Linked DNA regions of Homo sapiens: region 2 is linked to region 1. The links come from fine-mapping of genetic effects on gene expression. Tissue or cell type: neutrophils. Region 1 holds a variant in brackets; the other region holds the start of a gene. All regions are shown on one strand. Distances are between the middles of the regions.

What was found. PIP is the estimated chance that this variant, and not a neighbour inherited with it, causes the effect.
Region 2: it holds the start of TMEM273, and the variant in region 1 is fine-mapped to the expression of TMEM273 in neutrophils (BLUEPRINT, PIP 0.95).

The regions. Positions count from the first base shown.
Region 1 is chr10:49,102,116-49,110,219 of GRCh38, reverse strand. It overlaps VSTM4 (V-set and transmembrane domain containing 4), which reads left to right. Exons shown (of 8, transcript NM_001031746.5): 2 at 2,225-2,626. Among named protein-coding and RNA genes, the nearest start is that of VSTM4, 9.4 kb to the left of the region's middle. RefSeq lists an enhancer at 714-1,692. The variant G/CTG (reference allele first, on the strand shown) is at 5,007.
Region 2 is chr10:49,184,004-49,192,107 of GRCh38, reverse strand. TMEM273 (transmembrane protein 273) reads left to right here and starts at 3,717. Exons shown (of 7, transcript NM_001288740.3): 1 at 3,717-3,814. The coding sequence starts at 3,772. RefSeq lists enhancers at 1,049-1,268, 1,729-1,888.

The sequences.
Region 1 (8,104 bases):
GGGGCGTGGGGTCCCGGCTGCACTCTCATCCCACCCATCTTGTTTCAATTTCCTGCCTTCCTCAGCTCTCCTGGCCTCCACTGGGAAGCTCTTGAGGGCGGGGTGGGGCTGGACTTCAGTTCTGGAAGCCAGCTGCTGCATCGTTGCTGCTCTCTGTGGCTGCCCAACCCCAGCAGCTGTTGGAGCTGGGTCAGCCAGTGTCCCCCAGCTGCTGCATTCCTCACCAGGGAGCTCCTGCCGTGGGAGCTGTGTGGACTTCACACAGGGCTTCAGCAGTGAGGAAGAAATGTCTTCTGACTAATTTAACATGGCCCATGGGCCAGGTGCCTGCCAGGTGGGCGAGATGCAGGGGGAATTGTGGGGCCAATTCCTCTTCATTTGCCTTGCAGGAGGGGCTTCTGATGACAGCGGGATTGCTACCAGAGTGGGTCCCTCCTTTGGCTACACATTAGTCTGCAGCCCTAAGTATCTCCCGCATCACTGTAGGCATAGAAGACCTCATACCCATCCAGCGGAGAGTCCAGCTGAGCCTTAACCCTTTTTCTTCTGAGCTCACTTCCATATATATCAAAGACTTTGGTGTTTTAATCCCTGGGGACCTGTGAATGGAACGTTATATGACAAAAGGGACTTTATGGGTGTGATGAAGTCAAGGCTCATGGAATTACCCTTGAATATCCTGTGGGCTAGTGCTTGTCTTCTGAGAGATGAGAAAGAAAATTAAGGAAAAATGATCCTGAAATCATCTGTCTTGAGGTGTTCAGTTATTAAATCAATAGTGGAAACTGTATAGGAGGAAGACCTGTTGCCTGGATTTTTACAATGAAGAATAGTTTGTATCTACCATCCCTCCCCCAGCCCACCGCAGGGCCGCCTGCTTGCTGCTCCACAGCCTCCTTGTCAAATGTTCAGATCTTGCTTGATCTGTTTTTCCACTTTCCTCCTTGCTTCCCTGCAGCACTGCCCAGGGGTCAAAGGTTTTGGTGGCTGTGACATCTGGGGCCCAAGCCCTCTTCTGTTACCAGATGGTGGCATTTTGGGACTGAAAGCTGTGCTTTGGGATGACCATGGGGACACCTGCTTGTGTGGGGGGGTGGAGGCGAATGGCTTCCTGGAGTGATACATGGGGCAGTACAGGGGTGGGGACATGGAACCTGGTGAGAAGACAGCCCTGACTTGGCAGAAAGAGGTTCCAGGCATCCTGTGCAAAGCATCTTTTCTCGGGCCCTGCCTGCCAGAGGGCTGTGCTGTGAGCACCGGGCAGCCTGGTCGCACTGGGCAGTCCAGGGTACACCATGAATCGTGGCTCCTGGGAGAAGACTTCAGCAGTCGGCCTCTCTGAGGTCTACTGGTCTGGGTGGTGGAGTGGGCGCTGGGGTGGCTCCATCACAGGTCAGCTCAGGGGCAGAACAGTGGCTGGGAGTGGGCAGCCCTCGGGCTGGTTTTAACTAAGGAACCAAAGGACAGGAAGTTGTGGATGGGGCCTGGAATTCCAAAGTGTCTTTTGGGTTGTTGGGAGAGTCTCTCATCCCTCCTCTTCCTGGGGTTTAATCATTCTTTATTCTTGCTCTTCAACTCTGAGACGATGGATCCTACAAATAGGAAACCAAGCAACCCCTGTTGTCCCAGCTCACATCCGACCTTACTACTCATCTGCCCTGGGTACAGTTGAAATAGCGGAGTCAGGGAAAGGGGCCCAGCTTCCTGGTGGACAGGCCACCAGAGAGAGGGCCCTACCCTGCCCTGCTCCAGGGCGGCTCCCCACCCACAGCACAGCTGACATCAGGCCAGGGACAAAACTGATAAAAGTAGGCCTTGGGGAGGGGCAGGGGCCAGGTGGTGAGGTGTGGGGAGTGGTGGGGGGTTGGATGTGGGCTAGACATTTTTAAGAAATTCCAAAAATCTAAATCTTTTACATGAAATTTGAATTTTAAACGTCAGCAACTAATTACAAAATTTTGAAAAATACTTCTGGGTCAGGAGGTCATTGTTTAGCATCCCACATGGACAGGGTGGTCCCATAGATGAGACAGTGGGGGCCCACAGAGGCTCACCCCCAGAAGAACCCCTCCTCTGGAGAGGTGAGGGGCCGCCTGCTTCTCTGGCCAGGCAGAGCACTAGGATGCCCAGTGCGTGGAGGCATTTCCTGGCTCCTCGACTGTGGACTGCCCACAGGGGGACTTGGGGCCCTCCTCATCCTCTCTTCTCCCCTTTTTCTCTGCAGAGGTCTGTGCGGCCCTCAATGTCACTGTGTCCCCGGGGCCCGTGGTTGACTACCTGGAGGGGGAGAATGCCACTCTCCTCTGCCACGTCTCCCAGAAAAGGCGGAAGGACAGCTTGCTGGCCGTGCGCTGGTTCTTTGCACACTCCTTCGACTCCCAGGAGGCCTTGATGGTGAAGATGACCAAGCTCCGGGTGGTGCAGTACTATGGGAATTTCAGCCGCAGCGCCAAACGGCGGAGGCTGCGCCTGCTGGAGGAGCAGCGGGGGGCGCTCTACAGGCTCTCCGTCTTGACACTGCAGCCCTCCGATCAAGGGCATTACGTCTGCAGAGTCCAGGAAATCAGCAGGCACAGGAACAAGTGGACGGCCTGGTCCAATGGCTCCTCAGCCACGGAAATGAGAGGTGAGGGTCTTGGTCTCCCTGGGTAGAGGTGGTGGTGGGGCAGGCCAGTAGGCCCCCCTTTGCAGCCACCACCCAGGGGCTCCCGGGTTGGCTGTGTTGCACTAGAACATATCTTGTGGGCCTCTGTTGGTCACAGACATGAGTCATGCCATGGGGTGAGGGTAGATCTTTACCTGGACACTGGCTAATGTGCTGTGTAGACACAGAAGTGAGAACAGAAAGGACCAAGTGCCTGCCCCAACATGGCCCAGCCCAATCTCTGGGCAAAGCCTCTTATGTGTCTGAAGTTGGACTGCTGTGTGCTGTCAAAGGTAAACAAAGCTGGACCCTGGTCAAAGGGGTCAGGGCAGATTTTATTCAGCAGTAGCTATTGCAGTAGAGAAGAGAGCCTGGCATGAACTGGACTCAACTCTGATTTGTGCAGACATGACTGGTTGTTTTAAAAGGAGAATGAGTGAGTGGGGGTGAGTGGGGACTCAGTAGAGTCAAAGAAGTGTGAAAATTGCAAAAAGCAGTAGGGAGAGGTTTGGCTTATGTGGAGCCATCTGGGTTTGCTAAGATGCTTATCGAAGTTTGAAGTTTGGTTTCTACCTTCCCACAGAGATGGGGAGATGGGGGTTTTGTCTTCAGGTGTTGGCTGGAACAAGCAGTAAATGCTTTTGGCAGCCTTGAGTTTTCTCAGGCAGGCACTTTCAGGAGGTCATCGTAGGCATAGGCATGTGGCCTTGAGCCATTAGAAACTATGTTAGTGTTTGTTGGAGTCTTTAGGCCAAGACTGAGGCTTAGTCGAGAAGGGGCTCTGAGGAGCCCGGCTGGAGTTTGGCTAAGGAGAGCATGTTTGTCAGTGCTCAGCCTCCCACCCAGGTCTGTGCAGGCTTGATGGCTTTGGCTGGGGGGTGCCGGGCACCCATGGAGGAGGCACGCGTTGGGAGGTTTTGCTGTGAGTCGTCAGGCCTGGGAGCAGGGCAGGCTGGTTGCCCAGTGGAACTGATCCAAACTTAGGCAACAGCTCGCCAAGAAATTCATGAGGAAGTGGGCAGAGGACCAGGGGTAGCCCTCCCTTCCTGAAGACAGATAGGAGGGATGGACAGCATTTCTGCAACATCTCAGCTACCAAGTGCCATATTTTGGGGTTGTCATTTTTTTATCACCAATGTTTCTATTCGGGAAGACACCTCTCACAATTTTAGTAAGACTTCCTATTATGCACTAAATTTTGCCTTTGATTGCTTTGAAATTGAATTTAGTTTGGCACAAGATCAAGAGGATCACAAAGTACAGCTGATAGTCTCAAATACAAAAAAGGGTCTAATTTTATTGTACACATATAACAAAATACTCAAGTCCTTAGTGATGTTGTTTTGACAAGCCTTTTTAAAGGACAAAACTTAGTTGTGAAAAGTATTTTTAATGTCCTATATGAATAAGGGACATAGAGTAAAATAATTTATATACAGAGTCTTTACAGTAGTTCAATTTTACTTGTCTTTGGAGTTTGCTTGTTGTAATGTTTATAAGTACAGAATGAGGTATTAAATAGAATGTGCAATTTTTCTCCTTAAGCAAATTAATTCAAGAAAACCAATGACTATTGGCTTATTATTTTCACATAGAAAACAAGACATCAGATCATCAAGGGCTGGGCCAAGAACCCACTGCAAATACCACTTGGCTGTGAAACACAAGATCTTTTATATATACAAGATATATACATACATATATATATACACACAAGATATATATATATATATACACACACACATATGATACGTGTGTATGTGTGAATTGTGTTGTTTTTGGTGTTTGTGTCACAGTGTATTCTGGAGTCACAGACGAAATATCTTGGCAGTGATGACATTCTGCCAAATAAAGCATATAAAAGCTTTGCTACCTTCAAGTAAGCAGAGTCATTTAGCTTGTTGGTTAACGTGAATCTCATTTCAGTGAGTGAAGCTGGGTTCAGTCTAGAACATTTGTTTGGGAACTTGCTCCAAAAACATGAGGTAGTTTTTAACACCTCACTGGAAATAAGAATCTTTCCCCACTTCTTCTCTTGCTCCCCCACTTTCCTGCCCTGGTCCTCTGGTTTCTCTTCCTTCCCCTCCTCAGCTCCCCTTCCCTTCACTCCCCGCCTCTTTTCTTCTTCGTCTTTCCTCTCTCTCTGTCTGTCACTCTTTCTCTCTCTGCCTCTCCCTCTTTCTCTCTCTTTCTGTCTCTCTCTCTCTCTGTCTCTTGGTATATCTCTCTCTGTCTCTCCCCCCCCCGTCTCTCTCTCTTTCTCTGTCTCTTCCTCCCTCTGTGTCTCTTCGTCTCTCTCTGTCTCTCTGTTTCTGGCTTTCTATCTCTTTCCCTCTCTGTCTCTCTCTCTCTCTCTCTCTCT[G/CTG]TCTCTCTGTCTCTCCCTCTCTCTCTCTGTCTCTTTCTCCTTCTGTCTCTCTCTTTGTCTTTTGGTCTCTCTCTGTCTCTCTCTGTCTTTCCATCTCTCTCTGTCTCTCTCTCCCTCTGTGTCTGTCTCTCTCTGTGTCTCTGTCTCTCCCTCTCTCTCTGTCTCCCTCTGTCTCTCTGGTCTCTCTCCCTCTGTATCTCTCTGTCTCTCTCTCTGTCTCTCTGTGTCTCTGTCTCCCTCTGTGTCTCTCTGTCTCTCTCCCTCTGTGTCTTTCTCTCACTGTTTCTCTGTCTTTCCTTCTCTCTCTCTCTGTGTCTCTCTCTCTCTTTGTATCTCTGTCTCTTTCTCTCTCCGTGTGTGTCTCTGTCCCTCTCTCTCTCTCTGTGTCTCTCTCCCTCTGTATCTCTCTATCTCTCTGTGTGTCTCTCTCTCTGTATCTCTCTATCTCTCTGTGTCTCTCCACTTCTCTCGCCCACTCCCCTCTGACCTCTCACCCAGAAGTGGTTCTACCCTCTCAGCGGAGCTCAGCCTCCCTTGCCATGTCTGCTCCATCTCAGCTCCTGGGCAGGGCCATGATTTGCTGATGGAAAGATTCAAAACCTTAGGAAGCAATGACCATATCTTCTAGAACATTCTATTTAGGCTTCCAGGGGACTGTTCCAAGGCAGTTAAGGAAAAGCAACCCCAAGCAAATGGCCTGAAACCAGGCAGGCTGTTTGGGTTGGAGCTTGTCCGCCCCAGGCTGGGGCTGTGCAGAGCCTTGGCTGCCTGTTCTTCCTGGGCAGGGCCAGGAGAGGCGCATGGCTGCAGCCTCCCAGAGCACCTTTCCCGGTGTCCTGGGCCTTGCTCCTCTCCAACGGCCTTATTTTCCTAAATTTCCACCTCATGTTCATAGTTGTTGTTGTTGTTTTTGAGACAGAGTCTCCTTGCTCTGTCTCCCAGGCTGGAGTGCAGTGGTGTGATCTTGGCTCACTGCAGCCTTTGCCTCCTGGGTTCAAGCAATTCTCCTGTCTCAGTCTCCTGAGTAGCTGGGATTACAGCTATGCGCCACCACACCCAGCTCATTTTTGTATTTTTAGTAGAGGTAGGGTTTCTCCATGTTGGCCAGGCTGGTCTTGAACTTGTGACCTCAGGTGATCCACCCACCTCGGCCTCCCAAAGTGCTGAGATTACAGGTGTGAGCCACCTTAAATGGAAAACAAAAACACAGAACAACAAGGATGAGAAGTTCTGTGGTCCGTACCTTTGGGTTAGAATATCAAACAGGAGCTCTTGGGGGTTTGAGTGCCCCCCACCCCAGGCCCGTGGTCTCTCTTGTCTAACCTGCTCATGTCACCTCCCTCCTTTCAACAGGAGTCTCCAGCCATCCAGTGGAGAGGGGAGCTTTTCTTGGGATTTCCCTTGTAATACTACCTCACTCTTTGCCCTTCACCGCAGACTTAACCATGGCCTCCTTCCTGCAGAGTTCTTGATGTGAGATAAAATTGCTTGTCTTTCACTGGAAACTCCCAGAAAGAAAGGCTGGTGCCTGGTCTCTCCTCATTTCCCTGTCATGAACACCTCGCCCAGCACATGGAGGGTGACTTGCGATGATATATTTAAAAAATAACTCCCAGTTCTGAGAAGAGCCATAGGAGTGTTGGCTCTTATTATCTGTCCTGATTTCCATATGTTGGTTGTTTTCTATTGCAAAAGTAATATAGTGTAATATAGTTCAATTATAGAAAACATGGAAAAATACTGAAAGGGTTTAAAGAAGAAAATAAAAATGACTTACCATATCTCTACTCAACTTAACATTTCAGTGCAAATCCTTCCTGTCATTTTATGCAAATTAAAATTTAAAACCTAATTTCAATCTTACTGTAAAGAGTGTTCTGTGACTCGCTTTTCTGATATTACTAAATAGTGTGCACATTTTCCCTTGTTAAATATGCCTCAAAAACATAATGTTAATGATGGAATAATGTTCCATCATGCAGGTGGACCTCAATTTAGCTTCCTGCTTATTGTTACTGGACATTTGAAGCTGCTGTAAATCTTTGTCAATAAATCTCCATGAATATCCCTGACCTTAGCATAAAATCCTGGAAATAAGATTGCCGGGTCCAAAGATCTACCCAAATTAAAAATGGACACAATTTCAAGAAGTGAATTGACCTCTAAAATAGTTTACAAATTTATATTACCACCAGCATTGAAAATGCCTTTTCCCCACGGATTGGTCTACATAAGAGTGTTGGTTAATTTTATGTGTTGACTTGACTAGGCTAAACGATGCCCAGATAGCAGGTAAAACATTATTTCTGGGTGTGTTCGTTCTGTTTCTCTGGGATCCCAGACTAACACAATCATATACTTTTTGAGGATGATGATGATAACAATGAATGCCTGCAACAGTGCCTGGTACACAGTTGATCCTCAATAGATACTTGATGAATGAATAAAATGTTCTTTGTCAAGTGTCATTAGCAACTGTTGCTGTGGATGACTTTGAAGTAGGCGTGACTTGGTGGATGTAGTCACCCTCTCTGGGATGCCTTACCTCTCTTTCCCTTGACCTATTTCAATCATACATATTTTTTGGGGCTCCACATCCAGCTTTCATCTTCCATCAATGCCTTCTTTGGGCATGCCAGCCCATGGAGTGCTCTCCCACTGGCAACATCTTGTAGCTTCTGTTTTTAGCACTGTAGACACAACATTATGTGGTCATGCCGTTGTTTTTCAAGCTGCTGTGGCACAGTGATGATGTCAAAAATATTATACATAAAAGAGTTGGCCAGGCATGGTGGCTTACGCCTGTAATCCCAGCACTTTGGGAGGCCGAGGTGGGTGGATCACGAAGTCAAGAGTTCAAGACCAGCCTGGCCAACATGGTGAAACCCCATCTCTACAAAAATACAAAAATTAGCCAGGTGTGGTGGTGTGCACCTGTAATCCCAGCTACTCGGGAGGCTGAGATGAAGAATTGCTTAAACCCAGGAGGCAAAGGCTGCAGTGAGCCAAGATCCCGCCACTGCACTCCAGCACTCCGCTCTCAAAAAAAAAAACAAAAAACAAAAAAGAGTCAAACAATGCAAAAACTAAAATGCGCA
Region 2 (8,104 bases), 82 kb before region 1:
CAGAACAGTCAGAAAATACTCATTTTATTTCTATTATCTGAACTAGTTTGTTAATATTGTAATTTCCTAGTCCTTAAAGTTTCTAAAATTTTTGTAAAATTCTGTAAAATAGTTTGGAATGATATTTTCTTTGTGGCAAGATTTTTAACTATTTGATTCAATCTTTTGAAAGGCATCAGGACCTTTCTGTCTTGCTGTTTTTGTCTAGCACATTTCAGTAAGTTACACTTTCCTGAGATTGTGTCCATTTCATCAAAGTTTTCAAATTCATTGGCATAAGATTGCAAATAATGCCATTATTGCTACCTTTTTGGACTTATTTATTCTTAATATTATTTATTTTTGTCTTCTCTCTTTTTAAATCCATTCTGTGAGGAATTTTTCATATTATTAGTTTTTTCAGAAAAAACTTTTAAGATGTGTTTATCCTCCCCATTGTATCTTTGCTTGCTTCTGGTTCATTCATTTTTGCTCTCATATTTATTGCTTCCTTTCTTCTGCCTTTTTTCTGGGCTTATAATTTTTTCAAACTTCTCTGACTGGTTGCTTATCTCATTCCTTTTTCAGTTCTTCTTTTCTAAGTATTTACATCTATGCATTTCCTTTTAATTATTACCCGGCTTGCATTCTGCAAAATCACATGTGCAACATTTTCATTATCATTCAGTTCCAGCTATTTGTAATTTTCACTGTAATTTTTTCTTTGATCTATGAGTTACTTAGAAATGTTTTAAAATTTCCAAACCAATGGAAATTTCTATCATGTATTTTTGTTACTGTCGTTTAATTCAATTACCTTGTGGTAAGAAAATATGGTCTATATGTCACCTTTTCTTTGAAATTTTTGAGACTTGTATTATGGCCCAGTGTGAGACCGTTTTGGGGTATAAATGTTGCATGCATGCTGAATTGAATGGCTATTTTCTAATTGTTGGGTGCACAGTTCTATGTAAGGCCAATAAACAAATCTGCGTGCTGAATCCTCCCTATCTTTAAATTTGTAAAAATCTGATGCGTAATGATGGTGTTTGGCAGTTTTTTGTGACTTGCACTAAAGGCGTTCACATGAGACATGAATTCTACGAGCTCCCTGGCTGGTCCTGAGGGTGCAGTGCTAAGGACAGAAGAGTCCCAGGCTTGGTGGCCTTGGAAGAGGCCCCACATCCGAGTGAGGGGCAGGATGTCAGAGCTGCCGGAGTGGGGCTCATTCTTTTCTGCTTGTCAGTGCAGTGACCTTCCTCACCTAGATGACCTGGAAAATATTCCTGCCAGGTGGGCTGGAGGCTAGGCCGGCTGAGCATGAGATAAGAAAGTGAAACGACTTCTTTTTTTTTTTTTTTTTTGAGACAGAGTTTCACTCTTGTCGCCCAGGCTGGAGTGCAGTGGCGCAATCTCGGCTCACTGCAACCTCTGCCTCCCGGGTTCAGGCGATTCTCCTGCCTCAGCCTCCCAAATAGATGGGGTGAATTGAATTCTTCATTCAACAAACACCGCTAGGAGCCTGCACTGTGTCAGGTGCTAGGCCAGGTGCCCTGGGCCCTGCCCTCACAAGCTCCTGGGCCAGTGTGAGCCAGTGCCAGGAGCAGCCTCACGGTCAGAACTGGGCGTTCATTACAGGGGTACAGGGTGGGGCATCCGCTCTTCTGGGTGCATTGTGCCACGCCAACAAGACACACACCATCTTGCCAAGGTGCCGTGGCTGGGTGCCAGGGCATCTCGTGAGATTCTAGTTTACGGGGCGTTTTGAGCCTCTGCCTGTCTAAGCAGGGAGCAGACTGCATTTTCCAGACTCGGAGGCTACGGCAGAGTGAAAGCAGAAGTAGCTGCAGATGCTTCCCCTCCTGGGAGTATGTAGGACAGGTCGAGCTCCCAAGGATGTTTGGAGAGGTGTTTGGGAGCAGAAGTTCATGCTGGTGTTTAGGTTGACTCATCCCATGCGAAAGTATTTTGAAATCAGTTGCCGACATTTGAAACTTATTGATTTCATATAAAAACAGAACTGCCTGGTGTGGCTGGAAGCCCTGGGCCTGGCCTGAATGTAGCTCCACCGTCCCCAGCCACTGTCTACAGATTGTCAGGTCTGCACTGGCATTTTCTTTCAATACACTTAGAGGAAAGTGAAATATTTTTCTTACACATGTTCCCATGAACTGGGGCAAAATTAAGAAAACTCCACATATTCCAGGAGAAATAAGAGAGTATGTTTCTTGGTGCAGGTAGAAACTGATCTTAATTTCATCAAATGAATAAAGTGTGGACAGATGGAACTTGAAGGCACCCAGATGAAGCCAATTGCTTCTCTCATGACCAGCCTTCTCCTCTCATGTCCATTATTTATGTGAAACTCAGAAGGAGCCACAGCAGCCATGCAGAAGAACCCAGGGGGCATCTGTGGCACCAGGGCAATCGGACTGCCTCTGGCTGGACCTTGGCAGGGGATGGTACCTGTACACAGAGGGCACATGCAGCCTGAGGGGCATAGGCTGCCAGCCAAAGGCCTGGGTTTCGAGTCCAGCTCTCACATTTACTGCTGCGTGGACTTGGACAGGTTGCATGCTAAGATGGCATTGGGCTCAGTAGCAAGTGCTCACGGTGTTGGCTGCTACCGTTAGGGATTTGACTGAGGGAGCCCAAGAATGAAAAGAGCTCGATTTCTGCCAGCTCAGTTGGGTGGGGGACTCAAGACTTGTCATTAAGTTGATTTATATTTTAAAAAGTGACATTTCCTGCACATTTGGGTTTTTGGCTGAACATCTAAGCATTGTGACAACGTGCAGGTATAAAGGAGTACAGGAGCATAAGGCCTTCAGCCTGCTGGCTGAGCCTGTGTGACTACCAAAGTTCCTCCAGGCTAAGGACCTGGACATGGGGCCTGTAAACTTGGATGGGAAAAAAATTACATCTCTGTTCTCTAACCTCTAAGGAACACTTAGCATCTTCTTCTAATAGTAGTGTGGCAAACGAACCACAGAAACATTACCACCCAGTAACTTTATTTCTGGTAGGAATCACAGGTCTTTCCATCCACATTCCAGCTGTTACAGGTATCTCTCAATATCGATTCCATTTATCACCATGTCGAGATGGTGGTAGCTGTTTCATCTGCTGCCAGATCTTGCTATTTACTGTGTGGATAAATAAGCATGTATATTTCTACTTCACAAGTTTAACAAAATATTTTGATAACTGTGTGTTAATACTACTGATTTCTACTATGATCCTTATCTATTTTAGTTTGGGGATTTAAAAATCTTATTCTGAGAAGAGAGTGATAGGCATTCCTAGACTCAGAGGCTCCCATGGCACAAAAACAGTGACCGAGCTGGACTATTGGCTGGAGGGGCATTTCCTATTTCTGCTCCAAGGCAGAGGCTACTGCAAGGGCTGGACTGCAGGGCAGACCGGCTTTGCCCACATTCCTCTCTGAGACTTACTAGCATGGGTCATTAGGCAAGAAACCGCACCTTACCGAGCTTTGTTCCCACACTCTGTGGGGAAGATTATAGGAGAGAACACTGGGTATAATACCCCAGCATGTACAATGGGTCTAATCACAGCCAGCTTCTGGTGGAGTCCAGAATGACAGGGGCTTCCTTCAGCCCTGTCTTCAGAGAGGCTGAGAGGAACTGAACAGCCTCCTGGCTGTGACAGTGGTTTCCTTCCCCATCAGTCACGTGGGTCTTGTCCTGTCCCCAGAGCCTTGGGTCACATGGCTCATTGTGCCTGCGCTGCCAGCAGCCAGGAGCCAGGAGCCAAGAGCAGAGCGCCAGCATGAACTTGGGGGTCAGCATGCTGAGGATCCTCTTCCTCCTGGGTAAGTGGGGACTGCGGGGGTCTCTGGCCCGGGGGAGCCTCAGTGGGCAGGAAACTGGGGGAGCCTTAGCCCACTGGGGCTTGATCCCTAAAACATAACTCTGTCCCTTTACACAGATGATGTTTCTCACTTTGATCTGGTAGTGAGCAATGATCTTGTTTGTCTCATTCCAGCTGCAACTTACAAATGCTTCTGGGCTAAAGGAGAATAGGAAGGGTCATGGCAGAAGGAGCTTCGGGCTTGGGATCTAGAAACATCTGGGTGTAAACTGTGGCTCCATTGCTGATAAACTAGAATAAGCTTCTGAAACTCCCTAACTTTCTGAACCAATGAGATGGGAGATAATCATGTTTACTTTTTGGGATTTCAAGAGAGTTAAGTTAAATTTAATTAAGTCAAATCAAAATACTGACATAGAATGAGAACATGTAGGCATGTAGATACTGGTATACATTTAATGTTGAATCAGAATTCTCATGCAGTGAAGCAGACTCTTTGCTACTCAGAGGTATCTTTGTTTTTAAAAATTATCTTTAATGCATTCCTTGAAAGAAGGAAGAAAGGAGAGAGGCAAAGACTAAAACAAAGTAGGGCCAAATGGAGGAGAGAAATATAAAGTCAGAGAAGTAGACAGAGAGGAAGAAACTCAAAGAGAGAGAGAGAGAGACAGACAGAGACATAGAGAGATGGTTAGAAATATGCATAGATGGAGACAGAGATGGAGAGAGACACATGCCTTTACGAAGTCCCCTCTGATATCAACTGTTGTTTCCTAAAAAGGCAGCATACGTCCCTCATATATACAAAGACGTTCCTTCCCAGAACTTGCACTGGGCCGAGACTCAATGGGAAGCAGTCTGTCTCCAGATTAAATCTTGTGTCTCCAGACCAATAGGTTGTATCCTGAATGCGGGCAAAGTTAGTGCTGTGGGCAGGTTTCCATCTAAAGTCTGCACTAAGCAGGGGAGAGCAAAGACTTTGGCCTTGGGAGTCAGCATGTCAGACAGACAGCCAGCCACATCATCCATCAGTTTACACATGGAAACGGGCCGTTGGCAGTGACTGTGAAGGGATGTCAGGCACCAGCAAGCAGCGATTAAGGGTGTGCACGGTGGTTAGATGCAGTGTGCCTGCCCAGAGACGTGGTGGAAGGTAAGAGAAGTTGTAACCCTTATTTCTGCTTTTGACTTACCTAGATAAACAAACTAGTCTGTCCTGGTACAAAAAAAGGAAGTTAAATTTAAGAAATCCAATGAAAAATGTGCAAATTATATAAACAGGCAATTCATTGAAGAATCACAGACAATAAAACTTTAAAATGTCCAGTCTCACAAATAATAAAAGATCTAACACCTCCTCGCATTTTTTAGTGTGTCGATGTGCTGGGTGCTCTGCTGAAGATGTTACATGAGCTCATTTGGTTCCCACAGCAACTCTGTGCAATAGGTGCCACAATTACCTGCATGTTATAGATAAGGTTTTAATCACTGGGCCAAGGCATCACAGCTCGTTTCTGCTTTCATATACTATTGATAGAGGTACACAGTGGTTAGGAGTGGGTATCCAGTACGAGACTCCTTAAATGTTCATCCCTGTTCTGTTGTTTACCAGCCTGGAAAACTTGGACAAAGAATTAATCCTCTCTGTGCCCAGTTTTCTCATCTGTAAGTTGGGGACACCTCACAGGACTATTGGGAAAATGAAATCTGTTACCACATTTAAAGCACTTAGCATGGGATGTGATAAGTGGTGAGCACTCACTATTGGATATGAGGGGACTCATTTATTCACTCTCTCCAGAGGGCAATTTGGCAAAATCTGGGTGTCAATGTAAGCGAAATGTAAGATGTTCATAACCCTTCACCCAGAAATTCCACCTCCAGGAATATAACCTGATGAAATAATATGGTAAAACCCTCCCAAAATATTTCACAGGGTATTATTCAACACTGCCGAAACCACGGTGGGAACCAGAAACAAGAGACTATCAGTAGGAATTTGACTAAGTTAATTATGCTTTAGTATTTCCAACAATATCCAATATATTTAGTTGAAAGACATGCCTTTCTATGAGCTGACACGGATGAAACAGAAGTGATGAAGTGATAGTTACAGGTTAGAGTTCCGTAGTAATATTTTGCATGTGTTTAGTCTCCTTCTTCTTCCTCTTTTTCTTCTTCTTCCTCTTCTTCTTCTTCTTCTTCTTCTTCTTCTTCTTCTTCTTCCTCTTCTTCTTCTTCCTCTTCTTCTTCTTCTTTTTCTTCTTCTTCTTCTTCCTCCTCCTCCTCCTCTTCCTCCTCCTCCTTCTTCTTCTTGAGATGGAATTTTGCTCTTGTTGCCCAGGCTGGAGTGCAATGGCGCGATCTCGGCTCACCGCAACCTCCACCTCCTGGGTTCAAGCAATTCACCTGCCTCAGCCTCCCGAGTAGCTGGGATTACAGGCACATGCCCCCGCACCTGGCTAATTTTGTATTTTTAGTAGAGATGCGGCTTCTCCATGTTGGCCAAGCTGGTCTTGAACTCCTGACCTCAGGTGTTCCGCCCACCTCGGCCTCCAAAAGTGCTGGGATTACAGGCGTGAGCCACCGTGCCCGGCTATCCTTTATCTTCTTAGGAAAAAGAATTATACAGCATCTTAATTTCTCTGTATTGGCATTTTTCATAATGATTGTATATGTTGTTAATTCCAGTAAGTAAATGTTTGTGAACAAAAAGCGAATATGACAGCCTGTTGAAAGCAAATGAAGGAAACGTTGGGCTTCCCCTTTATTGACTGGAGAAAGGGGCCTAGAGCACTGTTTAGTGCAATCTACTGGCAGATGGGGGTCTGTGAGGGTGGGTGACCAGGCCAGTCACCCAGGGTGTATGAGAACTGTACCTCAGGGGACTTGGGGGCTATGGGGGCACTCTCTGTCCAGTCCCTCTGTGGCATCCAGGATCCCAAGTATGACCGGGGGACCCTGGGATGAGAAGCCAGGCCAGTCTTTCCCACACACAGAGTAGGTAGAAAGTTTTTAAAGAAACAGTATTTGAATATTCTTTAAATATTTTCAAACACTGAGATTAATGGAACAGACATTTATGGAGCCAACACTCTGAATTACCAAATGTTAAATTTTTTTCTAGATATATATTTAAAGGTAGGTAGCTAAATCAATGTATCCATCAGAGAAACAGAACATAAGAGGTGGAGTTTGGCTCTCTTCCTCCTCTTGTTTTCCTCCCTCCCCAGAGGGAGAGGCACCCCAGGGTTGGCTGTGCTTCCTTCCTGGGTTACTTTGCAGCTGTTAAAAACTGCAGGAATCCGCCATAGCATACTGAACACGTTGCATTATCTACCCGTTCTGATAATATGGGTCAAATGCATTCATCCCAACTACTCTACAAGTTTCCACAGAAACACTGCCATTTATCTGATTATTTATCCATTCCCATACTGTCAGAATTTAGGTTGTCTCTAACTTGCAGCCTGATGGCTGAGGCTTCGATGAGCCCTCTCGCCCCACCTCCTGGAACCCACCTGCAGCTGGTTTTCTAGCAGACACCCCTGGCAGGGGAAATGTCGTGTCAATTCTCCTTTTGTTGGATATTGCCAAATTGCTCTCCACCAGGGGGTTGTGGCCATATCTGTTCCTTACATACTCAGTAATACTTGATACTGCCCAACTTCTCAATTCTTGACAATTAGAGAGGTATAAAATTTTATCTCAAAGTTTTTATTTTAGTTTGTGTGTTCCTAATCACTACTAGGAATAACTACTTTCTCTGCATTATCAGACAGCCCATTCTCCTTTTCTGTAGATTTCTGATTTTATATACCTTTCTCCCAAGTTGTATTTGATTATTGGTCTTTTATGTAGTATTCTGGATATTAATTATTTGTATGTTTCATGTGTTCCAAATATCTTCTCTCAGTATGTTGCTTATCTTTTATCTTTGTGGCTTCCTTTGTTGTGAGAAGTCTTTCAGCGTGATGTAATCACATTTATTGGTCTTTTCCTTTTTGTGTGCTTGGTTTTTCTGTGTTAAGAAGCATTTTAAAAAGTTATTTTTACTTTAAAGTGGTTGCATTTTTTATGATTAGGTCTTTAATTTATTTGGAATTTATTTTTATTTACGGCCTAAAGAAAGGATCTAATTTTAATGTTTTCTGTATGGGACATCAGTTGTTGCAATATCACCTGTGTAATGATCTTTCCTTTCTTTGCTTTGCAATGATTCTATATTGCAAACATATTCTATGTCTATTCTGTACCCATTTAATATGTCTGAACCATTAATGGGCTTCAT